7 linked regions of the Homo sapiens genome follow. The protein of the gene in region 1 purifies or fractionates together with the protein of each later gene. This does not show direct contact. Each region holds a gene or a part of one and is shown in the gene's direction. Other genes may lie near its edges. The genes, in order: SRGAP2, TBC1D25, SLC25A12, SLC30A4, DEPDC1B, MELK and RALGPS2.

Region 1 (3,198 bases):
ACATCTGCCCCCTCCCACTTATCCTAGCTTCCTTGGAGCCAGGGCTCCCTGATCACACTGCCCTTTCTGTTTGTGATTGAAGGCAAAGGAAGCGTCCAGAATCTGGGAGCATCCGGAAAACTTTTCGGAGTGACAGCCATGGGCTGAGCAGTTCCCTGACTGACTCCTCCTCCCCAGGGGTGGGGGCTAGCTGCCGCCCATCCTCCCAGCCCATCATGAGCCAGAGCCTCCCCAAAGAAGGGCCAGATAAGTGTTCCATCAGTGGGCACGGGAGCCTCAACTCCATCAGCCGCCACTCATCCCTGAAGAATCGGCTGGATAGTCCACAGATCCGGAAGACTGCCACAGCGGGAAGGTCAAAAAGCTTCAATAACCATCGGCCCATGGACCCTGAGGTCATTGCTCAGGTAACTGTGGGCTCCTGGACAGACAGCATGAGTCTACATTCATCACTACCACTTAGTGCCACCCACCTAATTATGACAGGACTTGAAACAGAATGATTATTTTGTATGTGATATACTGAGTATATGTCCACTCTGGACATGTGGACCCAATAAGACAGCTTAATAAGTGGTCTGCCTGTCCCTCTCTCCCCAGGAAGAACCTAAAGACAGAATAAAAGAAGCCTAGCTTCTTGCTCATACACTGGCTATTAGGAAGGCTGTTGTAATTTTTAAAGCCGGTATTAAGAGTATTTTGAAAGCCCAAGTTTTGAGTCTAAAGACCTTGGTAGACTTTAGTGAAACTGCCCGACTGTTGAGGATCAGGTGTAATCCTGGCCACATGTTTATATTGCTGTGCCCATCACCATCATCCCGATTCCTAAGGCTAGTCTCTGGTACCGAATGGGTAGATGATCAATTAAGAACCTGCACCTGGTTTTAAAGACCTAAAAAATACTCTGGCTGCAGAGAGCTCTGGTAACCAAAAGGATTTGCAGCCCAAGCCTCCAGAGGCTATGGAGATGAGCTCCCTGGTTGCAGGGTCTTCCTTCTGTGTATGCACCGCACTGATGACTCTCTGTTTTCCATGAAATATTAGAGATCCAACCCCACCTCTAAAAATCCGACTACCGGGGCCACTCCAAGCAGTTCACTCAGACGTCTCTCCCAACTATATAATTTTCATTAGACCAGGTAGGAACTAAGGGCTTATTGTTGCCTTCTTATCTCAACTGAGTTGAGATTCTCCTTACCCCATCTTCCAGGGGGTGATAGAGGCTGGGCATGGTCTCTCTTGGCTTAATTGTGGTTCTCTGCTTACGGAGATGTACCTGGCAAGCCCAGTATTGAGCTACAGGCCTGAGATGTCTTGCTTTGCTAGCCTTCTATTCTGTGCCTCTATTTAAGCTCTTGGCTGCAATCTGCCTTGCGCTACGGGAATCCTCCCAGCTCCCTCCTTGGCCAGGTGTTAATAGGAATGTCAGGAAAGGTAGACAGCTGGGACAGACTAGCTGTAGAGTGCGACTGAGGAGGGAGATGGAGTTCTTCCTGAGCATTTTAAAGGTTTGAGAATGTCATAGGGATGAGTGAAACTGAATCACTGTGAACAGAAAGCATGCATCGGTCTGTACGACAAAGAAACCTTAACCAAAGGCCTTCGCTTGGAATGTGTAAAATCTTTCCATGTGAACCTAATCCCAAGAAGAAATCCTGTGGTAGTTTGGGGGTGCCAGACACAGGTTTATGGGGAGGGAGCGGGGAGCTGGGAAGTCTCACTGGAAGGCAGCTGGCTTGCATACAAAGGTTCTTTGGTTCTGCCTTGAGTCCCTGGGCTAGGACTGCTGTTGGCTAAAGATCTAGAGTGTTCCATTGATTTGCAGGCAATTGATTCACCTATGTGGGCTTTGGCTCCCCTTCCTGGTCATTCTTTTGTCCCCTTGGTGGTGATGGCTGGAAGGAAATGGTTTCAAATTGGACACTGCCCTGAGTTGGGGAGGAGGGGCGGGGGGAGGCGTATTGGGCTCCTGAAACTTTCCTCAGCCCCTGAGGAGGAAGGACTAACCCTCTTCACCTTTGGCCTTGAAGTCCAAGAGAATAAAGATCATACATCATCTCTACCACTTTTTAAAAAAGTGTTTATTATGTACAATTTCAAACCTACCCAAAAGCAGACAGAACTGGATAACAAATCCCCATGTACTCATCACCAAACTCCTGGCCATTCTTACTTTGTCCGTGTTTCTCTTCCCCACTAGATTATATGTCACTTCGTCGATAAGTATTTCAATATCTATCTCTAAAACCTAGGGTCTCTAAAAAAATATCAATTACTTTTTCTAAAGGAAAAAAAAAAATCTCATGACAGTGAAAATCCCTCCGTCCCCCTTTCCCTACTTCCTGAGCATTCATATGTTCAAAGATTTAGGCCAAGTACAATAATCTGGACATCTTACGGTCATTTTCTTCATGCCTTGGCCTGTGTTGTTGAAACCGGCTCCTTGGGGAATTCTCCCCTCATTTGCCTCACCTCCTCCTTTTTCCTGTTTTGCAGGATATTGAGGCAACAATGAACTCGGCCCTGAATGAGCTACGGGAACTAGAACGGCAGAGCAGTGTCAAACACACCCCTGACGTGGTTCTGGACACCTTGGAGCCCCTCAAAACCTCCCCAGTGGTGGCCCCCACGTCAGAGCCCTCCAGCCCTCTGCACACCCAGCTCCTCAAGGACCCCGAGCCCGCCTTCCAGCGCAGCGCCAGTACTGCTGGGGACATCGCCTGCGCCTTCCGGCCTGTCAAGTCTGTCAAGATGGCTGCCCCGGTCAAACCACCAGCCACACGGCCCAAGCCCACTGTCTTCCCCAAAACAAATGCCACTAGCCCTGGTGTCAACTCATCAACTTCCCCACAGTCTACTGACAAGTCTTGTACTGTCTGAGGGATAATAATTTAATTGTTCTAGACAAGGGGACTATAGGGACTGACTGTTATTAAAATCTTCCTATTTAACTAGCTTGGGGACTTCAGTTGAAAATTAGGTTCTAAGTTGTTCTTGCAGGAATTAGCCTCCCCGTCTCCCAAAACCTTGAGAATGAAGCCCTTGGTATCGCCTCTCCCTTCCCACTGCCCTCTGCTTCCCCCAGTCGTCGTAATTCAGCCAGCTGCAGTCCGTACCGTTCTTAGGTTAGCCAGAGACAGGTTTTCATTATCAGGTCACTGTGAAATCTGGTAAGGCAGTCCTGAGGACATGGGCTCA
Region 2 (3,500 bases), on another chromosome or scaffold:
AAAAAAAAAAAAAAAAGAGGCTGAGCACGGTGGCTCACGCCTGTAATCCCAGCAGTTTAGGAGGCCGAGGCGGGCAGATCACAAGGTCAGGAGATCGAGACCACCCTGGCTAACACGGTGAAACCCTGTCTTTACTAAAAATACAAAAAAATAGCCGGGCGTGGTGGCGGGTGCCTGTAGTCCCAGCTACTCGGGAGGCTGAGGCAGGAGAATGGCATGAACCCGGGAGGCGGAGCTTGCAGTGAGCCAAGATCGCACCACTGCACTCCAGCCTGGGCAACAGAGCAAGACTCCATCTCAAAAAATAAATAAAATAAAAAATAAAAAAAGAGCCCTAATCCCATCTGTGAGAGCTCTACCCTCAGGACTTAATCACCTCTTAAAGGCCCCCACCTCTTAATATGATCACATTGGTAATTAAATTGCAACACATGAATTTGGAAGGACACATTCAAACCATAGCAGTGTGGTAGTGGTATCATATCTATTGAAGGAAAATATCCTTGTTCTTGGGAAAGACACAGTTAAGTATGAAGGGGTAAAATGTCATGATGTCTGCAAATAAGTTGGCAAAAATAATGTGTTTATATACAGAGAGAGTGAGATAAAGCAAATGTGGCCCAAAAAAATGTTAATAGAGGATCTAGATGAAGTATGTATGGGTGTTCAGTGTATTCTTTTAACTTTATTGTAGGTTCAAAATTGTTTTAAATAGTTGTGGAGTGGAAGATGTGGTTCCCAGCCTCAGGAAACTCATGTGCCCATTTGGGATGAGTCGAGCACTTTATTGATGTCATAATAACATATAACTAGCTAATGTGTAGTGAACACTTAGGGCCATTCTGTGCACATAATATTTTTTCACTGAATTGTCAAAATAATCCTATAGAGTAGGGACAATCATTTTCCCCATATTATAGATGAGGAAACTGAGGCTCAGAGAGGTGACAGGACTCGTCCCAGTTATACAGACAGTAAGTTGAAGAGCAAGATTTGAACTCAGGCAGTGGCTGAACTGGCTCCAGAGTCCTTGTTCTTAACCATTTAACTCTACAACATTTTGGACTTGTTAAAATTGGCAGCTTTGCAAAAGAGAGACAGAGGAGAGAGAGAAACAAGAGTCAGAGGGAAAGATAGTGACAGAGATGGGCAGGAAGCCAAATAGGAAAAGCCAGGTAGCCAGACACACAGGAACCTCTGCCACTGAGTAGCCATATGTGCTTATGTCAGTCACTTAATTCCCTGGGCCTTGTTTTCCTCACCTGTTAAAGAGACACAGTAGCACTATTTCAGGAAAAAAATCAAATCTGCATGGCTACGAAACATGTGGAGAAAACCCCAAGTGCATGAGAACTGGGACGAATGCCAGTAAAGCAGAGAGACAGACAGAAAGACACCCAGTAGTCTGGCAGGAATACATCTTTAAAAGGTTATCTTTTTAGGCCAGGCGCCGTGGCTCACGCCTGTAATCCCAGCACTTTGGGAGGCCGAGGCGGGTGGATCACCTGAGGTCAGGAGTTCGAGACCAGCCTGGCCAAACATGGCGAAACCCTGTCTCTACTAAAAATACAGAAATTAGCCGGGCGTGGTGGTAGGCGCCTGTAATCCCAGCTACTCGGGAGACTGAGGCAGGAGAATTGCTTGAGCCTGGGAGGCGGAGGTTGCAATGATCCGAGCTCGTGCCACCGCACTCCAGCCTGAGTGACAGAACTAGACTCCATCTCAAAAAAAAAAAAAAAAAAGCCCTCTGTCTTATTTACCAAATTCCTGCACAACATCGGTCTGTTTCTGAATTCCTGATTCTCTTACGTTGATCTATTTATTAAATTATAAGCCAATTCTATGTTGTTTTAATCATTGTAGTAGTTTGTTTTCTGTTTGTTTGTTTGGTTTTGAGGGTTTTTTTTTTGTTTTTTTTTTGAGACAGGGTCTCACTCTGTCATCCTTGCTGGAGTGCAGTGGCCCAATCTCAGCTCACTGCAGCCTCCACCTCCCAGGCTCAAGCAATTGTCCCACGTCAGCCTCCTGAGTAGCTGGGCCTATAGGCACATGCCCCCATGCCCAGCTAATTTTTGTATTTTTTGTAGAGACAGGGTTTCGCCGTGTTGCCCAGGCTGGTCTTGAACTCCTGGACTCAAGCAGTCTGCCCGCCTCAGCCTCCCAAAGTGCTGGGATTACAAGCAAGAGCCACCGCACCCAGCCTTAATCATTATAGTTTTATGATATGTTTTCATGTTTTCCTTTTTAAAAAATTTTCTTGAATATTCTTGTTCACTTACTGTTCTTTTTATTTAATAAATCAGCTTATTATTCCATTAAAATCCTGACGGGAATTTGATTGGAGTCATATTTTTAAGAGAAACTAATCTTTCATTACCCAGTAAATACATTCTTATTAAAAATAAAAGCATTTTAAATAATGCTGAAGTCTCCTGGGAACGCTATGCCTAATCTCAATCCCCTACCCTACCCTTTTTGCCCCGAGGGAATCGGTTTGATGTGTAACTTTGCATGTCCTTTACTTATTTACACTCCCTACACACACATTTATCCACATATGTGAGTATATTCATATTTGCGTGTCTGTACACATAAACGGTATGTGTTTAACATAAGGTATTCTACACATTAATATGTAAGTGTCCAATATATGGAGCTATCATTAGACATATTAATGGCATTCTCATGATCATTTTCATGGCTGTGAAAGCAACAGACATGTTGGGACTGTTTGGATGGCCCAGTCCCTCTTTCTGGGAAAAAGCCAGTTTCTGTCACCTCTACAGTTGGGAGATTACAAAGCCTAGACCTTTGACCAATTTGTACTTTTCCGATATGAATCTTTTTTCTTTTTGAGACTCTCTTTGTCACCAAGGCTGGAATGCAGTGACGCAAATATGGCCCACTGCAGCCTTGACCTCAAGCTCTCCTCCTGCCTCAGGCTTTCAAGTAGCTGGGACTACAGGTGTGCACCACCATGCCCAGCTAATTTTTGTATTTTTTGTAGAGACATGGTTTTGCCATGTTGGCCAGGCTGGTCTCGAACTTCTGACCTCAAGTGATCCACCCACCTCGGCCTCTCAAAGTGTTTGGATTACAGGCGGGAGCCACCGTGCCCAGCCCCCAACCTCCTTTCTATCATAGGTACTGCAAATATTTTTCCCAGTTGATCTTTTGTTTTTTGGCTTTGCTTACGGGATGGATCTGTTTTGTCCTATCAAAATTAAACATTTGATTGCACGCCTACACAGATATCTATCTTTTTCTTTATGATTTCTGAGTTTCTCCTTTTTATTGCAGGTGGAGGGACAGAGTTTCACTCTCATTGCCCAGGCTGGAGTGCGATGGCGCGATCTCGGCTCACTGCAACCTCCGCCTCCTGGGTTCAAGTGATTCTCCTGCCTCAGCCTCCCAAGTAGCTGGGATTACAGGCATGTGCCACTACACCTGGCTACTTTTGTATTTTTAGTAGAGATGGAGTTTCACCATGTTGGTCAGGC
Region 3 (3,500 bases), on another chromosome or scaffold:
TCACTGCAACTTCTGCCTCCGGGGTTCAAGCAATTCTCTTGCCTCCGAGTAGCTGGGATTACAGGCATGTGCCACCACACCCGGCTAATTTTTTGTATTTTTAGTAGAGACAGGGTTTCACCATGTTAGCCAGGATGGTCTTGATCTCCTGACCTCGTGATCTGTGTGCCTCAGCCTCCCAAAGTGCTGGGATTACAGGCGTGAGCCACCATGCCTGGCCGATTCTTTGACAACTTTTAAATCTTAGCTTTTCATTTACTGTTTTGCATATCGTCATTATCTTTTTACACATTATTTTGATGATGCCTTTATTTTTATGTTGAAAATTTGTGGAATTCATAACTGCTTATTTAGCACTAAGTATGAAACATTGACACAAGCATTATTGATAGATAAGAGAGTGATAGAATGTAAATACTCACCTTCAGAAAGGCCTAACGCAGCAAGAAAGATAACAATATAGGCTGAGTGCAGTAGCTCACACCTGTAATCTCAGCACTTTGGGAGGCTGAGGCTAGAGGATCACTTGAGCCCAGGAGTTCAAGACCAACCTGAGCAATATAGTGAGACCTCGTCTCTGCAAAAAATTTTAAAAATTAGCCACACCTGGTGGCATCCATCTGTGGTCCCAGCTACTCAGGTGGCTGAGGTAGGAGGATTGCTTGATCCTAGGAGGCAGAGGTTGCAGTAAGCCAAGATCATACCACTGCACTCCAGCCTGGCAACAGAGCAAGACCTTGTTACACACACACACACACACACACACAGACACACACGATACAGTATTGCTAGTTGGATCAATTTGAGGATAGTTACCAAGTAAAAGATTTTTATTCCTGGCTTGAATACTTCAAACTATAGTTATTTGAAGCTTTGCAGTACTGTTTAGAAACAGTTTTATGAAACAGTTTTATAGATGCATATAGTTGATTAATATTTTAGCTATAATAGAAGACAAAAATACATGCTAACCGTGTATTTCTTTAGCACTTAACATATTTACCCAACAAATATTTACAAAGGATTATTTGCTGTGTACCATGCACTTTTATTCAATACAATACTGTTCAGTAGCAGACACCAAGTCGAATATCAAGAGAGACAACAGAGCCAAGACCTAAATGCTGATGGACATGTGATTGGACTAGCTGCTCTCTCAGGCCCATGCCATCTCTCATGGTTTGTGGTTGAGGGAATCAAGAATAGTGAAGGCAAATGCATAGCCTGTGGTAGAGCAATCAGATTGGCTTCTTACATCATAGTGGCTGTGTAATAATATTGACAATGGCTAACATTTATTGATCATTTAGAGTGTGCTTGAGATTGGCCTAGTGCTTTAAGGATATTAATGTTAGTTTTCATAACAACTTTATGAAGCAGGTTTAATATCCTTGTTACATAGATGAGGTTAAATTAATGTCAGACTATGTGGTAGAGCCAGATTCAAATCAAATTCCAGAGCCCATACCCTTAACCCTTACATAATACTACTGGTAGGATATTGAAATGGGGTGACTTTTGAAAGACAGAGGTATATCAGGGGATAATGGCAGAGTGTTAAGAAGTTAAAAAAAAATCTGGTTACTTAGGTGATGAAATTTAAAAAGTTTCTTTACACTGTAACTGTCTAGAATAGTTAGCCAAGGAATTTGGATTTGAAACAGTAGGGAGCCACTGTGGGTTTCTGAGTAGGCAAATTGAAGTGGTGAATTCTGGCAGCTTTTTGTGTATGTTGGATAAAGTATGAAGAGATTGGAAGTAGCTTAGGTGATAAGCTGAGAGGCTACTGAAGTAATACTTTTGAGAATTAATGACCTAGAGTGGTTGATGGCTGGGGAAATGAAAAGCAAGGACAATACCAGCGATGTAAGGGAAGAATCTATCGAATTTGGTATTAAATATGGAAGTAAGGGAAGAAGTAGAAGTGAACCTGTCAGTTTTAGGATAGGTGTTAATTGATAAGGCATCTATTTAGATAATATTTTTTGGGGGGATGGGGTTAGTTTGGTTGCTAAACAAATGTATCTCACTAAGTTAAAGTTGGATTTGGACAGATACAAATTTGTGCAGGTGGTAGATGAATTCCTTGTATATAAAGCAAGGCAGAGGATCAGGGGCTGATTTATAAGTGATATCTCCAATTGAAGTAGGAAGGAGGAGGAGGGGAAATAGGGAGAATGGTCCCATGAAAGTTTAAAGTAGGAGTTTCACAAGAAGGATATAATTAAAGGTTAAAATGTAGATTATTCTGTTATTAGTATGATTTAGTTTGGGGAGGATTTTGGGGTCACTTGAGTTTAGAATTATCTGAGCTACTTAAAGACTATAAAGAGATATAATTTTAAATTTTAGAGTACAGTTGAAAACTCTTTGTAAAATGTAGATCTGTGGCATTAACTGTTTAAGTTCACAAATAGTCAATAAAAATTCCTACTTTCAAATAAGAATATTTTGTTAAACTTTTGAGCCATGGGTCAAAAGTCATTTGTAAAACAATAAAATGGCCGGGTGTGGTGGCTCACACCTGTAATCCCAGCAATTTGGGAGGCTGAGGCGGGTGGATCACTTGAGGTCAGGAGTTTGAGACCAGCCTGGGCAACATGGTGAAACCCTGTCTCTATAAAAAATATAAAAAATTAGCCAGATGTGGTAGCGCACGCCTGTAATCTCAGCTACTAGGGAAGCTGAGGCAGGAGAATCGCTTGAACCCGGGAAGCGGGGGTTGCAGTGAGCCGAGATTGTGCCACTGCACTTCAGCCTGGGCGACAGAGCGAGACTCACTGTCTCAAAAAAAATAATAATTAAAAAAATATATATATATTTTTATTTGAAAGTACTGGTATATCAGCTGGGTGCGGCAGCTCATACCTGTAATCCCAGTGCTTTGCGAGGCTGAGGTGGGAGGATCACTTGAGGCCAGGAGTTCAAGACCAGCCTGGGCAACAAAGCGAGATTCCATGGCTACAAATATATGTATATAGATTTAGCTGGGTGCGGTGGTACATGCCTGTGGTCCTAGCTGCTCTGGAAGCTGAGATGGGAGGATCACTTGAGCCCAGAAGTTCGAGGTTACAATGAGTTATCATTATACCACTGCACTCCAGCATGGGTGACAGAACAAGACTTTGTCTCCAAAAAAAAAAAAAAAAAGGAAAAAAGAAAAGAAAGTGGCAACTGACTTATTTATGTATCTATGTTTAGTGAAATTGTATGAGAATTGGTGTGGGAGTTCATAAGAAGGGCTTTATAAGAGTAAAGCATTATTATTTTGAATATAGGGAAATAGGTTCATTTTTCCTGTGGTGTTCATTGCTTCTCAAGTTTTGATGAGCTATGTTTCTATTAGTTAAAAAACATCAACAACAACAGTATGCACTAAGATTCTGCCTTTTTCTGCCCACCTCCACTCTGCCAAGTTCATGAAATTGGAGTACAACAAATGAATTCTTATGTGTTAGGCTGTGCTGTAATTTTACAACTGGTTTAAGCTAAGATTTTAC
Region 4 (2,825 bases), on another chromosome or scaffold:
CTTCTGTAAATCTTAACTATCGTGTTCTGCTTAAAGTGAGGTACACATAAAGTTTCCTGTGCTTTGTTTTTGTAGGAAAAAGTACATAGTTTGTATCTTTACCTTACGGAGTCTATGAGATTTGAGAATTTGATTTCACTTTTTGTAACTTAACCCACAGAAAAGGACATTAACTTAGCAGATAGGACCAAGGACTGAATGACTTCTGACAAAAAGCGTTTGGTCTATCCTTCACTTGTTGAGCTACAACCATGCATTACACTTCTCAGCTGAGCTCTCAAAGAGCTCTATGCCCTGTGAAAAGCAGTGGCTGAGTTGGATGAACACATAGCATTATTAATTTTGCACTGGGAAAACAGATTATGACAGGACCACAGACCACAATATAAAAACTTGGCAGTTCTTTGGTGTGATATATTTTAATTAGTATTTGCAAATAATCAGAGTTACTTGTGTACATAAACGTGTGTTTCACAACTATGGCCAGATGCAACCTTTTGGTCTGTTTCAGGAAAAGACCTATTATTCCACTAACAATTATGCTGCCTTAGAAACATAATGGGAGTGTAATTGAAGAAAGCATGTCTCAGAAGGTTTTGATATGCAGAACTGGAAGCTATTGTAATTCCTACATACATTTCCATTAGCTATGCCTTATGTAATGTGAGTGCAGATTTTTACAACTTAGAGTTCCCATCAGTGTTTTTTTGCCACATCACCGGGTTTCTTATTTTACTGTTTTCTTTTCAACTTTGGGTGCTTTATTTCCATTCTCTAAAACTAAGTTTCTTGCTCTTACGAGACTTAGTGTTCCTTTTGAACCCAGGTGTTCCACCTGACAGTGTTTGTCTTTCATAGACTTTCCAGAATAGACATAGTCAAGATCAGACACGTGAGCTTCTCTCTCATTTTAATGTGAGGAAAATCATCTTTCAGAGACAAGGCACCGCTTAGAAATGTATGTCCAGGTATGAAAGAACCTTTTTAAAATGGCTGGTTGTTCCAGATCCAGATTTCTCTGCACACTGGACTTCGTAGAGTAAGTGTGGTAGACAAAGAGACTACACTGCACAACCACCAGTGAATATCATTGCTAAGAAGACTTTGGGTCGTGTTTCTCAGCCACTCTCACAGCTTTTGTAGACTTATTTGATTTTGAAACAAGCAGTTAGCTAAATCTATTTTCCTTTTATGCATATATGTTAATTGGCTCAACTTAATATGGTGTTCTTACAGAATATGAGCCCATTTGAAATAAGGTTTTAGGCAATTTTGCTGTTGGCTCTGATTTGTATATAGCAAATTTAAAGTTACAGAGTGTTTCCTAGATAGAAGATTAGTTCATTTGGTTCATTTTGTCTTTGAAGCAAGCCAAGCTCATGAGCCAGTTGGTTATTTGTCATAAATGAACACCCATCACTATATGCTATGTTGAGGGGAGGCAAGTCTGATCTTCGAATAATTGATAAAGTTTAATATCTTTGTAGCCAAAATACAATTTGCAAACCCTAACTCCAGATGTGTCGTATGAATCTTGACAACCAGGTCTTGAGATTTGTTTTACTGATTGCCAATCAGGTATATTATTTGTGATGTTCGTGGGAGCATGCAAATTAGAAGACAGTGTTGTGGGAGTTCCTCAGTATTGAATTACATGTGTGCACTCAGGCCTGCCAGTCACTGAATTCTGACTTGTAAAGGGTTTAACCTGCTGTTCCAATCATTGAGGACCAATTTGCTTTTTGATAAGATTGGAAAACATTTATGGAGACTTTCCCAGTTAAATCTATGACAGTGTCCACTTAAATAGTGCAATTTAGTATATTCTCAGATAACTGCAACACAAAATTGAAATGTGCCAGTATGTCATCTTTCTACCTGGAAGATACTGTATATTTGGAAAGTTTATGCTTCTCTCAATAAATACATGTTATTAAATAAGCCATATCACAGTTTAAGAAATTGTATATACTTTATCATATGCCCTTTCAGAAACCAGGTATTTTGCATATGATTGATTTTAGAAAGATTTTGAAGCTGGGGTTTGTCCATGTTAATTAAGATCAAAGTATATATATATATATATATATGTGCTGTATTTGCAACTTTCACATTGTAATTTCCTATACACTTATTAAAGTATTGTTTTGCCATGTGGTTTATTAAATAAAAATGTACAGTCTCTTAAATATCTGCTCTTTTTATTAAGTAATATTAGTAGGCCTAAAAACATTGTTCTTAAAAGAAAATCTTTTATAATTATAATGTCATTTTATAATGCCCTCTTATATGTTTAAGAAATAAAACTGAAAAAAATCTTCTGGATAGTATGGAAAGATTAATTAAAAGAACCTTTCTCTTTTGGTATCAGTCACATGCAGTGACGCTACAGTCCCATCAACAGTGGCAGAAAGGAAATAAAGAAGCCACTGTAAAATAGACTGGTGAGGACCACCAGGAAGTCTGAGAGTAAGAGCCTGCTGACTCTCCAATCGTGTGGACCAGTCTACACTATACCTCCCAGGCCAAATCTGGCCTGCAAGCCTGTTTTATTTGCCCCAAGAACTAAGAATGATTTTTACATCTATTAAATCACTGGGTGCAGTGGCTCACGCCTGTAATCCTAACATTTCAGGAGGCCAAGGCAGCTGGATTGCTTGAACCCAGGAGTTCAAGACCAGCCTTGGCAACATGGTGAAACCTCATCTCTACAAAAAATACAAAAATTAACTGGGCATAGTGGCACATGCCTGTGATCCCAGCTACTCAGGAGGCTGAGAGATAGGAGGATCACTTGAGCTCAGGAGGTCTAGGCTACACTGAGC
Region 5 (3,500 bases), on another chromosome or scaffold:
GCTGCTGTTGTCATGGTGGTTATATAAAAACAATGCAAAAGAAATATAATATATTATTATCGTGTGGACCCCAAAGTGGGGTTTGTATGTCAGCCTGTGGGAGCAGAAACCTGGTAAAGGCAGGCAGAAGGTCCACTTGACTCCTTCTGACTGATTGGACCTCTTCTCATTTGAGATCTTTTTGAGGCACCACAATCAAGGACCAGTGAACTGCCTCCTTCTGAGGTATTACAAAAATAATTAATTGTCCAGCTGTTTCTAGAAGGCAATTTTAAAATTAAAATTTTTTCTATTTTTTTGCAATTATCAACCTAACACATTGAAGAAACTTGGGAAATATAGAAAAAACACACCAAAAAGTATCAGAGTTACACTAAAATGTTCATAGTCAGTAATATAGTCTTTCAGATTTTTTTTTCTGTGTCTGTCTGCTGTCTATGTCCATGCCTACCTTACTTTCTTCCCTCTCTCTTCCCTCCCCACCCTCCCTTCCTTCCTTCCCTCCTTCCCACCTTCCCTGCTTCCTTCTTGCCTGCCTCCCTTCCTGCCTGCCTCCCTTCCTGCCACTTACATTCTGTTAACAATGAGAAAAAAATTCCCCCATCATTAAATATTGTTGATTGGCATGAGAATGGCCAAGAGCACAGACTCAGGAGCCTTTGAATTCATGACATGCCTTTTGTTAGCTGTGTCACCTTAGGCAAATTATATAACATGTCTGTGCTTCAACATCTGTCCCAACATTTCTTTTTCTCATCTGTAAAATGGGAATAATAGTAGTTAATATTTACCTCATAGAGTTTTTCTGGGGAATTAAAACATGTGATTAAAATACATGTGGGCTTAATACATGTGAAATGCTCACAATAATGTTTATCACATTGTAAACCTACAATTAGTAGCTGCCTTTGTTGTTGGTATCATCATTATTGTTATATTATTCCATAATAATATTATTGGCAACATAGTATTCCATAATATGGATATACCATAATTTATTTAAATGATACTTTTTGGTTGGTATTTAGATTGTTTTCATGCTTTCCCCCATTTTGGAAGCAATATAGCAGTAAATATTTTTAAAGGTAGATTTTTTTTGGCTAATCTGTGATTATTTTTTAAGAATAAACTCCTAGGGGCAGCATTGCTTGGCCAAAGGCCATGAACATATTTTAAGTATCTATAGCATATTGCCAAATTTAGAATGATCATTTCAATTTACATTTCTGTCAGTGGTATAAGAGAGTGTTCATTTCTTTGCCCCTTTGCCTACTTTGGATATTATCATTAACACTTGTATATATCTTTGCCACTTGCATGGGTGAAAAGTGTAATTTTAACTGCTGTTTTAGTTTAATTTTTTCCTCTGATATTTTTATGAGCCAACCCTAAAGAAAATAAAAATGAACAGAAATACTTCACCAAGTTTCTGCAAGGAAATGTTATAGCAGTGTATTAGTCTGCTCTCATGCTGCTAATAAAGACATACCCAAGACTGGGTAATTTGTAAAGGAAAGAGGTTTCATTGACTCAGAGTTCAGCATGGCTGGGGAGGCCCCAGGAAACTTACAATCATGGCAGAAGGGGAAGCAAACACATCCTTCATGAGGCAGCAGGAGAGAGAAGCACCGAGCAAAAGGGAGAAAAGCCCCTCATAAAACCATCAGATCTCATGAGAACTCACTCACTATCATAAGAACAGCATGGGGGGAACCACCCTGTGATTCAGTTACCTCCCATCTCCCACAGCAAGGGGATTATGGGAACTACATTTCAAGATGAGATTTGGGTGAGGACACAGCCAAACAATATCAAGCAATAACTGTGTTGCCCTGTATACTTGCTAGGTTTGTGTATTCACATGCATAGCACAGGCATATATTGTAGTAACTTAGCCTTGTGAGCCCTTTGCTATTACTTGAAGTTCAGAAGGCTGAGCTATGGTGATTAATTTAACTGCAGGTAAACATGATCTTGTTAAGAGACACTGCAGTGTGCTCTGAATAAAATCAGTAGTGATTCATTTGTCCAGTTACCTTTTCTCTCTTGCAAGTACATATTAGAATTGCCAAGCACCTGTTCCATTCAGCCCTCAGAACCTATAGATCTTTGTTCTTTTGATTAGGCTCCTAAGCCTCTACACTGTATCACATTTAGGGGAGTGCTTCTCTGAAAATGCAGTGTTGCTTGGATTATTCCAGTGATTGTTTTAGGACAGTTTCAGGGCTGACCCTGGGATACATTATTAGGTAGGCAATGTTTTTGACACAAGCCTTCTATGATCCTCATCTGCAACCTTCTATTTCAAAGGACTCCAGGCTCTGAAATTAAATATTTTTAATGTATGTTCATTTATTCACAGGCCTTGGTTTCCTTTTTCCTCTTATTTCTCTCTTCTCCCTTATCCCTTCTGCAATGTCTGCACCTTTGTTGTTTTACTTGATTCTCATGGGTAAGATGTTAGGAAATGATTGTAGTACCCCTCTCTTCCTAAAAGCTTAGCTAAATGCATGCCACTACCATCCCCAAGGCATTGAGAATCACACTCTTCAGATGTGGGAATGCGCCTGGATAGTTCCAGTGGATATCCAACATTATCAATGTTTTGAATCATTTTAGTCAATGTGTTTAATTTATGCTTGAATTTCAGATCTTGTTAAAAGAGGGAATGCCGAGACCAGCTCGGTCGTGGAGACCCTAACCCAGTGGCCCTAGAGGAATTAAAGACACACACACACACACACACAAATATAGAATGTGGAGTGGGAAATCAGGGGTCTTACAGCCTTCAGAGCTGAGAGCTTTGAACAGAGATTTACCCACATATTTATTGACAGCAAGCCAGTCATAAGATTTACTAAAAGTATTCCTTATGGGAAATAAAGGGGTGGGTGAAATAAAGGGAAGAGCTCTGGCTAGTTATCTGCAGCATGAACATGTCTTTAAGGCACAGATCGCTCATGCTATTGTTTGTGGTTTAAGAATGCCTTAAGCGGTTTTCCGCCCTGGGTGGGCCAGGTGTTCCTTGCCCTCATTCCTGTAAACGGACAACCTTCCAGCATGGGCATCAAGGCCATCACGAGCATGTCACAGTGCTGCAGAGATTTTGTTTATGGCCAGTTTTGGGGCCTGTTCCCAACGAGGGCACAAGCTTTTTTTGTTATTGAAATGGCTCTTGGGTTTACAAAGGTAAAAATCCAATTTAAAACCGTGGCTTTAAATAATAATATTTTGAAGTTATGGAAATACTTTTACTTTTCAATATAGAGTTTCCCCCAATCAAATTTTGAGGACTAACATGGCATTGCTACGGTACAAGGAGATATCCTGTATTTGATCTAAACTAATTCTTATAATTTATTTGAAAATATGCTATATTCTTTCACTACTAATCCTTTTGCCTCAGATAAAATACCCAGGAGCTGATATGGATATCACTTTATCTGCTCCATCATTTTGCCGTCAAATTAGTCCAGAGGAATTTGAATATCAAAGATCAT
Region 6 (4,288 bases), on another chromosome or scaffold:
GGGAACAAATACATATTTAAAAATATTTATCCATGTGCCACCCAGAATTACCTTGTCTATCTTGTATCACACTATGAGAAGCACTACCTTAAGAAATTTGTATCTCTTCTTTGGGCCATAGGTTCTTATTTTGAAAAGTAAGATAGTTGGATACTTTTCTTCCTAGGCATTTTGTTATTTATACAATGAACTCAAACCTGAAAGATATAGAAACTATGGTTTTGTTTGACAGTGAAGGTACTTACCAGGAAGGGAGGGATTTTTGTGTGTCCAGGACCCACTAAAACAGTGCCTACCACATAGTAAACATTCAAAAGTAGTTGTTGAATGAATGAAGGATAAATATCAATTAGGAATGAAATTATCTCTGAGAATTAGGCTCTCAGTCAATGAGAAAAAATAATATGACATCACTTTTTTAAAGGAATACCTGTTACATTTATTTCCTCATAGAACTGTCATAAAATCAGCTCCTGGAACTCTATAATATTCTTTAAATAATCCAGAAAGAGTTAAGGAAACATATCCAACTAGGTACAAAGCAAACTTTGTATGGTGTTTGTTTATCTTTCCGTGGTATACATTTCAGGACTGTTAATGTCTCTTAAAATAGTGTGGGAAGGGGAAAATAGGCAAAGCTCAAACAGTTAGATGGGTGCTCTTTAATATTTATTTCTTTAAAAGGATTGGTAGGAGAGGAAGATGAAAGTATGAAAAGGAAGCTATGGGTGTGTTTACTAATAACCATAACTTCTCCAAGCTCTCCCAGTGGGCCATTAACTCACTAAGAGTTGACTGTAAATTCCTTTGATATTTTTTAGGAAATAGTTCCATTTGAAACAGTACTATATTGAGGAGTTTTGGAACTCTTGATCTGGTGTGATGGTCTTTGTGTTGATGTAAAAATTTACTTCTCATCTCTTCTTTTTCTTTTCTTAGCTTCACTATAACGTGACTACAACTAGATTAGTGAATCCAGATCAACTGTTGAATGAAATAATGTCTATTCTTCCAAAGAAGCATGTTGACTTTGTACAAAAGGGGTAAGAAGCACATTTACAAGCTGTTGCATTTATTAGTATCTTTTGGACTTTGAGAAAATAGGAGTTGGTTGGGCGCGGTGGCTCACGCCTGTAATCCCAGCACTTTGGGAGGCTGAGGTGGGCAGATCACTTGAGGCCAAGAGTTCAAGTTCAGCCTGGCCAACATGGAGAAGCCCTGTCTCTACTGAAAATACAAACAATTAGCTGGGCATGGTGGCACATGCCTGTAGTTCCAGCTACGTGGGAGGCTGAGGCATGAGAATCACTTGAACCTGGGTGGAGGCTGCAATGAGCTGAGATCACACCACTGCACTCCAGCATAGGTAACAGAGCGAGACTCTGTCTCAAAAAAAAGAGAAAATAGAAGTTGATCTCCTCACCCCTGTGCTTTAGAAAAAATGTATTTCTCCCACCTCATTCCCAAAAGCTTTTGAGGTAGTGTTATTGCTTATAATTTATTCTCTTTTGTTTGGTTCAAGCTATAAAAGTTTTAGAAGCACAGATATTGTCCCACTTTATTTCAAAATAGGAAAATTCAAAATTCTTCTGGCTTTCTTGTAGATCCTCTATTTTCCTTTGATTGTCTGCTTTACAATAATATTTATAAATTATAATCTAAATTTGTGAGACATTTCAAATGAATCAGGGATTTATACAGAATCCTTCTCTTCATGACTGGCTGTTTTACAGGGCTGGGTTTTCAGTGCTTTAGGAAGTTTTTTCACCTTACCTCTCTCCCGCTGTTGAAGGAACTGCCATCAAAGCCTCCTTGGTTATGATCTCCTGGTCTCAATAGCCAGGCCTCTTCTGGTCACCCAAGATGGCCGTATTTCTAAGCATTTCCATTCAATTATTTCCCTTTAAAATTTCTTTATTAAAGCAACCAGAAGAGACATGCATGGATTTAAACATGTAAATAGAATAGTCAATATAGAGTAAGATTTGAAGAAACAATCTTGTGCAGATATAATTTTTAGTTTTTAGTTATCTGTAAATGTTGGCAAGCATTCCTTCTGTGAACCCTGGCATTCCTCTCAGGCTTCATTAGAACACATCTCTCCCACTCTGATCTCTTCTTCATGCTTGGGGCTATGAGCCTCTGGGCATACCTCTGTCACAGGTCTCTCAATGATCTATTATCTAACATGTGACTAAATTGTTCTATGCCTCATCTTCTTGTCAAGAATCTTAACTTCAGGGTGCTCCTTTTGGCATTTTTGATGTTGACTGCTTATTTTTGAGAGATCAAGCCTCTTTCCCAAAACACATGACTAAGTTAGTAAGAAAAAGAATATTTTGGTACATAACAGTATGAAACAGAAAAAAGTACATAACTGAAACAATGTAACTTCTCCACACATCTGTGGAACAGCACTTAATCAGGAACCCTTAAGTATTTAGGGAATTGAAACTTAAAATCAGTCCTATTTATTGAAGATTGGTAAGACAAACAAAACTCTAAAATAGAATGTAAACTAATTAAATATTATTACATGAATTAAATTTATACAGCTTTGCAGGATCATACGTATGTCTTAAGATGTGTTTCAGGCTTCATTTTGACTGGGCCTTTCCATTCTCAGAGTAGATAATGCGGCAGTTCTATCTATAAATGCCGTACGTTTCAGTTATGGGAATATACCATTTCCTTGGGCTTTTTCTTCTGCTTTTCTTTCTGCCATAAAGTGATGTGATGATCGTCATAAGAGGTTATCTCTCATTACTAATTAGAAAAACCTCAAAAACACACGTGCCTTTCTGACAGGTTACTGGCTTCAGCTTTATTTATATGAAAGACAAGTTTCTGACAAGGCTCACACACATGAAATATTATCTTTCTTGCGCTTTCCTTTGTTGTGAATGTTGTGGAAATGCCCAATGTTTGCGGATTACACGTTGAAAGGATTGCATAAAGAATGCCAGATTTCTTGAGCATGAATGGCATGTATAGCTATGAAACAGGGGCTTTTCTTTGGAGCAAGGGAGACTTGTAATAAAGCCTTTTCATGCTTATTCTTAGGATCCTAGTTCAGTTTCTGGGAAAACACCAGTCATACTCTATTACTAAAGCATAGCTAGGTCATTTGGAAACTGTAAACAGTAATACATTGCTTAATATGAAATAATGGTTCATTTCCTCCACTGGCCTCCTAGAGGCTTAGAAAACTCTTATACAGAATATGGTTCTCCTACTAACTAGCTTCTTATCTTGTTTTTCACAGTTATACACTGAAGTGTCAAACACAGTCAGATTTTGGGAAAGTGACAATGCAATTTGAATTAGAAGTGTGCCAGCTTCAAAAACCCGATGTGGTGGGTATCAGGAGGCAGCGGCTTAAGGGCGATGCCTGGGTTTACAAAAGATTAGTGGAAGACATCCTATCTAGCTGCAAGGTATAATTGATGGATTCTTCCATCCTGCCGGATGAGTGTGGGTGTGATACAGCCTACATAAAGACTGTTATGATCGCTTTGATTTTAAAGTTCATTGGAACTACCAACTTGTTTCTAAAGAGCTATCTTAAGACCAATATCTCTTTGTTTTTAAACAAAAGATATTATTTTGTGTATGAATCTAAATCAAGCCCATCTGTCATTATGTTACTGTCTTTTTTAATCATGTGGTTTTGTATATTAATAATTGTTGACTTTCTTAGATTCACTTCCATATGTGAATGTAAGCTCTTAACTATGTCTCTTTGTAATGTGTAATTTCTTTCTGAAATAAAACCATTTGTGAATATAGCAGGCTTCTCTTTTTTGTATTTGATTTTGATCCAAATAAAACCTCAAATGGCTTCCTGACTATTAAGTAGAGACTATTTGGAGTATGTTTTATCTGTTATCAAATATGCCTTGGGCAGAAAAACAGATAAGAATTCATTTGCATAATTTTTTCCTGTCTGATTTAAGTAGGATTTATTGAGATCGTTAACTGTCACAGCTGTGGTTACCAGAGTTAAACAACACATTTAATATGTTGAATAAAAGAGTATTGACTTTAAGTATGTTTGGTCAACAAATGATAAGTATCCGAACTATGAACCCCCCCTGAAATGTTACTTTATGGTAATTTCCCTAAGTCTCAATGTTGGCCCCAAATTTGTATTTTTATTTCATTTTATTGGTCTCCAAAGGCTAGAACTCAAGTTATATTGGTATGGATTTCACCAATTAAACTAGTTGGAGAAAAAATAGCACTCCTTCTGGTCAGTAGTGAAGGGAATGTTTTGTCATTCATTTAT
Region 7 (3,500 bases), about 28 Mb from region 1:
ATAAAATAATCATTTGTATATTTAAATTCATATTCATTCAGTTGTTTGTCTGGTTAAACCAGGTCTCTTTTGGACTGTTATTAGCTGTGGAGGCAGATAAGGGTGGTGTATTGATTGGGAACGTGGGGTTTAGTGGTGATGGGTAATCAGTTCATAATACAACAAAATACCAAACTTCAGAAGCAAACTTTACGTCAGTTTGATGGTGTCTAATCTCCGTGCATGTACCTCCCTGAATATAAATAGCTCTAGCATGAAATTTCTACTGGTTTATAGGTTCTTAAGTCACTCTGAAGACACCTAAATAATCACAAAGGAATAAACTGGCAAACTTTAGTTTTCATTGCTCTTATAGGAATTCTGCAGCTCATGTCAAGTCACCAGTGACATTTTTGTCAGCATGTATGTTTTATTGGCTCATGTAGAAATCATTAATTATTGTATTAAACATAGGACCTTAAATCAATTAGGGAAAGATATTAAAGTGTTGGTTATTTTGTGATTTTTTTTTTTTTAAAAGATACATGAAAAGGAAATCTTGAGTTTTGGGTTTTTTCCTTTCGTGGAGAGCTATTAGGCCATAATCACTTATCCATTGACACCATTTAAATGTTATTAAAATGTATTGCAGAAAGCTAGTTTTTAAAATATATTATTATTGACTTTATTACTTCTTTCTGCTATTTTAGAATTAAATTAAGCATGTTTTCTTTTTTTTTTTTTGAGCTTGTATTTTTATTTTCAGTTTTATATATACTTAAATACTTTTAACAAATAGAATCCTCATTTTTCCTACCAGGACTTAAAGTTTCTATGTGGAAAATAAGGTTGCAACAGTGATGCAGTGTGGCATGTTAAGAAGAAGAAAACAAATCTTAAATTTTTAATTTAATATTTACTAAAGTGAATTACTGCATTCTTTCTAAATTATACTGTTCAAATATGTAATAAAGTGTGTTTTTTAACCATCTGCTGACTTTAATAACTTTCTAATCAACTTTTTGTACAGCTTATAAATTTCAAGATTAATAAACCTTTAGAATTGTCAGTGTCTTCTCAGCTCTGAATAAAGTAACAAACTTTTAAAATTAAGAATAATTACATTTTATTTAAGTACCTACTTGATGACTATTGTAGACAAAAGCTCTTATGTGTTCTTTTCTTCGTTATTATAGTTCTGCAGAATCAGAAGATTTGGCAGTACATTTATATCCAGGAGCTGTTACTATTCAAGGTGTTCTCAGGAGAAAAACTTTGTTAAAAGAAGGCAAAAAGCCTACAGTAAGATTTCATCATATTATATTTTAATACACCTCTAAAAATATGCAAATTTATAAGACTCTGTAAAAGTACTAAAACAATTAAAATAAAACCTGATTATAGTAGACTTGAAATAATATTAAATAAGGTCCTCCCCTCTTATCCTTGGGTCATCCATTCCAAGATCCCCCGGGGATGACTGAAACCTCAGATAGTACCAAACCAAATTACCATCATTTGGAACATGTTTCTGTTCATGTCTTCCATTCACAAATATAATACCTTTTCTATCTTAACTAAGCACTTAAGCCCACACAGTAACCGTAACTTTTGCAGTTTGCGATGCTATAGCAAAACTAGCATGAATTTCTTTTTCCTTCTTCACAATTTCACAGATACAAAATTTGTTCTTACCATGGATCTTAGCAACCTTAGCGTCTAATTTTTCTTTCCTTAATCCAAGAAGTTTTCTTTTCACTTAAGGAAGCAGTGGGGAGTGGGACACAAGGGTAGCACATATAGTGTGGAGACGCTGGACAAAGAAAGGGAAGATTATGTCCACAGAAGCACAGAGCAGAACTGTGTGAGATTTTATCATGTTACTCAGAACAACACATGATTTTAAAACCTGTGAATTGTTTATTTCTCAAATTTTCCAATAAATATTTTTAGACTATGGTTGCCTGTGGGTAACTGAAACCACAGATAAGAGGGAAAATATTGTACACATTTGTTTCACCATGTTTTCTTAACATAAAATGTTATTATATGTGCCATATAGATTTCTGTTAAATCATGTGTTAAGGGTGCTTAAATCCTGTACTTTTTTTTACCCCCATTATAGTTCGTATACAAAATTATTTCTTAGAGAACCCTGAAAGTATATCATGAAGAAGTATTTTAGTATTAAGTTTAGGTAAAATAGAAAATAAAGAGTAACAACCCTAAAAAATGGAATTTGATTGTGTTTTATCATTTTATTTAAATTCCTGTAATACAGTTTTGTTTTCTACATAACATAGAATCCAAATATTAAATGCTTTCCAAACCTATAACTATATTGGGGGGGGAAAAAAGGAAGATTGGTGGAACAAAGCTCTTAATATGTATCAAAGAAGTTTCTTCTTCCTCAACACCAGCATAGTAGTTTGACTACTAAGGAACAATTTTTTTCCCTTTCTCAAATTTGAAATATAAAACCTTTGATATATATTCACACTTAAAGCTTTTGAAGATATGGGGGCTTCATATAAGTAATCTTATTTTGTTGTTTATATCACAGTAAGCCAAAGGCACATACAAATCAAGAATCTCTTAGGCAGGCTAGTGAACTCAGAATTGCATGTCAGTTGAAGCATTACCATACCTTTTGTGTGCTGGATGCTAGAAATAGAGCAGTGAACAAGGTGAGGCAAAGTGTCTTCCTCCTGGATTACATTTCAGTGAGGAGAAATAGAGAATAAGGCTTTAAAATAATGTCATAGGATACAGAATGATGGGGCAAGGAGGGATGCCACCATGGCAAAACATTTGAGCTGAGATCTGAATGAGGAAGGTGAGTTAGCTGTGTGAATATCTAGAGTTCAGGAGACAAGAAGGCTTGTGTAGTTTACGCATTGAAATTGGGGAAGGTGGAGGAGATCAAGTAAGAGGCAAAAGCTGGAGTTGTTTGATGATAAATTAAACATGATGTATGAGAGAAAGAGTGAAAACAAAGATAACTTCTAGGTTTGGGGACTGAGATGGGTGTATGTTGGGGACATTTATTGAAATGGGGGGCAGGTCAGTCTTGGCCAAGTTCAGTTTGATATGCTTATTAAACATTCAAGTGGAGGTGTCATTGTGGCTGTTGAAAAAGTATGGATCATGAGGTCAGCAGAGAGGTGGCAGGGAGATAGATTTGGGAGTCATTAGCATACAGATAGATAGTATTTGAAATATGGAACTGGATGATAGATTATCTAAGAAGAAAGTATAGCTAGAGAAGAAAACAAGGTTGGAGATGGGGCTCTGTAGCATTAAAGGTCTCCCACAAAGAAGAGTATAAAGGAAAACTAAGGAACTGTTATCCCAGAAGCCTAGCAGTTACAGTACTTCAAAAAGCAAAGAGTGGCCAGCTGGGTCAGATGCTGTTAAGAGGCTGGCTATGATAAGGATAGAGGCTTTGCTAAAATTACAATCATCAGTGACCTTGATGGCCCAAAAGCCAAATGAAATGAGTTAAGTAGAAAATGGGCAAA

The links.
Region 2: the proteins of SRGAP2 (region 1) and TBC1D25 purify together in Homo sapiens (affinity purification with mass spectrometry, with the first as the bait; one large-scale study listed by BioGRID). This does not show direct contact.
Region 3: the proteins of SRGAP2 (region 1) and SLC25A12 purify together in Homo sapiens (affinity purification with mass spectrometry, with the first as the bait; one study listed by BioGRID). This does not show direct contact.
Region 4: the proteins of SRGAP2 (region 1) and SLC30A4 purify together in Homo sapiens (co-immunoprecipitation; one large-scale study listed by IntAct). This does not show direct contact.
Region 5: the proteins of SRGAP2 (region 1) and DEPDC1B purify together in Homo sapiens (affinity purification with mass spectrometry, with the first as the bait; one large-scale study listed by BioGRID). This does not show direct contact.
Region 6: the proteins of SRGAP2 (region 1) and MELK purify together in Homo sapiens (affinity purification with mass spectrometry, with the first as the bait; one large-scale study listed by BioGRID). This does not show direct contact.
Region 7: the proteins of SRGAP2 (region 1) and RALGPS2 purify together in Homo sapiens (affinity purification with mass spectrometry, with the first as the bait; one large-scale study listed by BioGRID). This does not show direct contact.

The regions. Positions count from the first base shown.
Region 1 is NC_000001.11:206,458,541-206,461,738, forward strand, and holds part of SRGAP2 (SLIT-ROBO Rho GTPase-activating protein 2), read left to right. Parts: intron 1-82; coding exon 83-407; intron 408-1,044; coding exon of another isoform or gene 1,045-1,134; exon of another isoform or gene 1,135-1,139; intron 1,140-2,496; coding exon 2,497-2,880; 3' UTR 2,881-3,198. UniProt on the Homo sapiens protein: Postsynaptic RAC1 GTPase activating protein (GAP) that plays a key role in neuronal morphogenesis and migration mainly during development of the cerebral cortex. Regulates excitatory and inhibitory synapse maturation and density in cortical pyramidal neurons.
Region 2 is NC_000023.11:48,546,214-48,549,713, forward strand, and holds part of TBC1D25 (TBC1 domain family member 25), read left to right. Parts: intron 1-3,300; exon of another isoform or gene 3,301-3,431; intron 3,432-3,500. UniProt on the Homo sapiens protein: Acts as a GTPase-activating protein specific for RAB33B. Involved in the regulation of autophagosome maturation, the process in which autophagosomes fuse with endosomes and lysosomes.
Region 3 is NC_000002.12:171,887,745-171,891,244, reverse strand, and holds part of SLC25A12 (electrogenic aspartate/glutamate antiporter SLC25A12, mitochondrial), read left to right. Parts: intron 1-3,500. UniProt on the Homo sapiens protein: Mitochondrial electrogenic aspartate/glutamate antiporter that favors efflux of aspartate and entry of glutamate and proton within the mitochondria as part of the malate-aspartate shuttle.
Region 4 is NC_000015.10:45,479,106-45,481,930, reverse strand, and holds the end of SLC30A4 (probable proton-coupled zinc antiporter SLC30A4), read left to right. Parts: 3' UTR 1-2,325; downstream 2,326-2,825. UniProt on the Homo sapiens protein: Probable proton-coupled zinc ion antiporter mediating zinc import from cytoplasm potentially into the endocytic compartment. Controls zinc deposition in milk.
Region 5 is NC_000005.10:60,599,167-60,602,666, reverse strand, and holds part of DEPDC1B (DEP domain-containing protein 1B), read left to right. Parts: intron 1-3,406; coding exon 3,407-3,500.
Region 6 is NC_000009.12:36,673,895-36,678,182, forward strand, and holds the end of MELK (maternal embryonic leucine zipper kinase), read left to right. Parts: intron 1-939; coding exon 940-1,043; intron 1,044-3,265; coding exon 3,266-3,443; 3' UTR 3,444-3,788; downstream 3,789-4,288. UniProt on the Homo sapiens protein: Serine/threonine-protein kinase involved in various processes such as cell cycle regulation, self-renewal of stem cells, apoptosis and splicing regulation. Has a broad substrate specificity; phosphorylates BCL2L14, CDC25B, MAP3K5/ASK1 and ZNF622.
Region 7 is NC_000001.11:178,892,744-178,896,243, forward strand, and holds part of RALGPS2 (ras-specific guanine nucleotide-releasing factor RalGPS2), read left to right. Parts: intron 1-1,175; coding exon 1,176-1,281; intron 1,282-3,500. UniProt on the Homo sapiens protein: Guanine nucleotide exchange factor for the small GTPase RALA. May be involved in cytoskeletal organization. May also be involved in the stimulation of transcription in a Ras-independent fashion.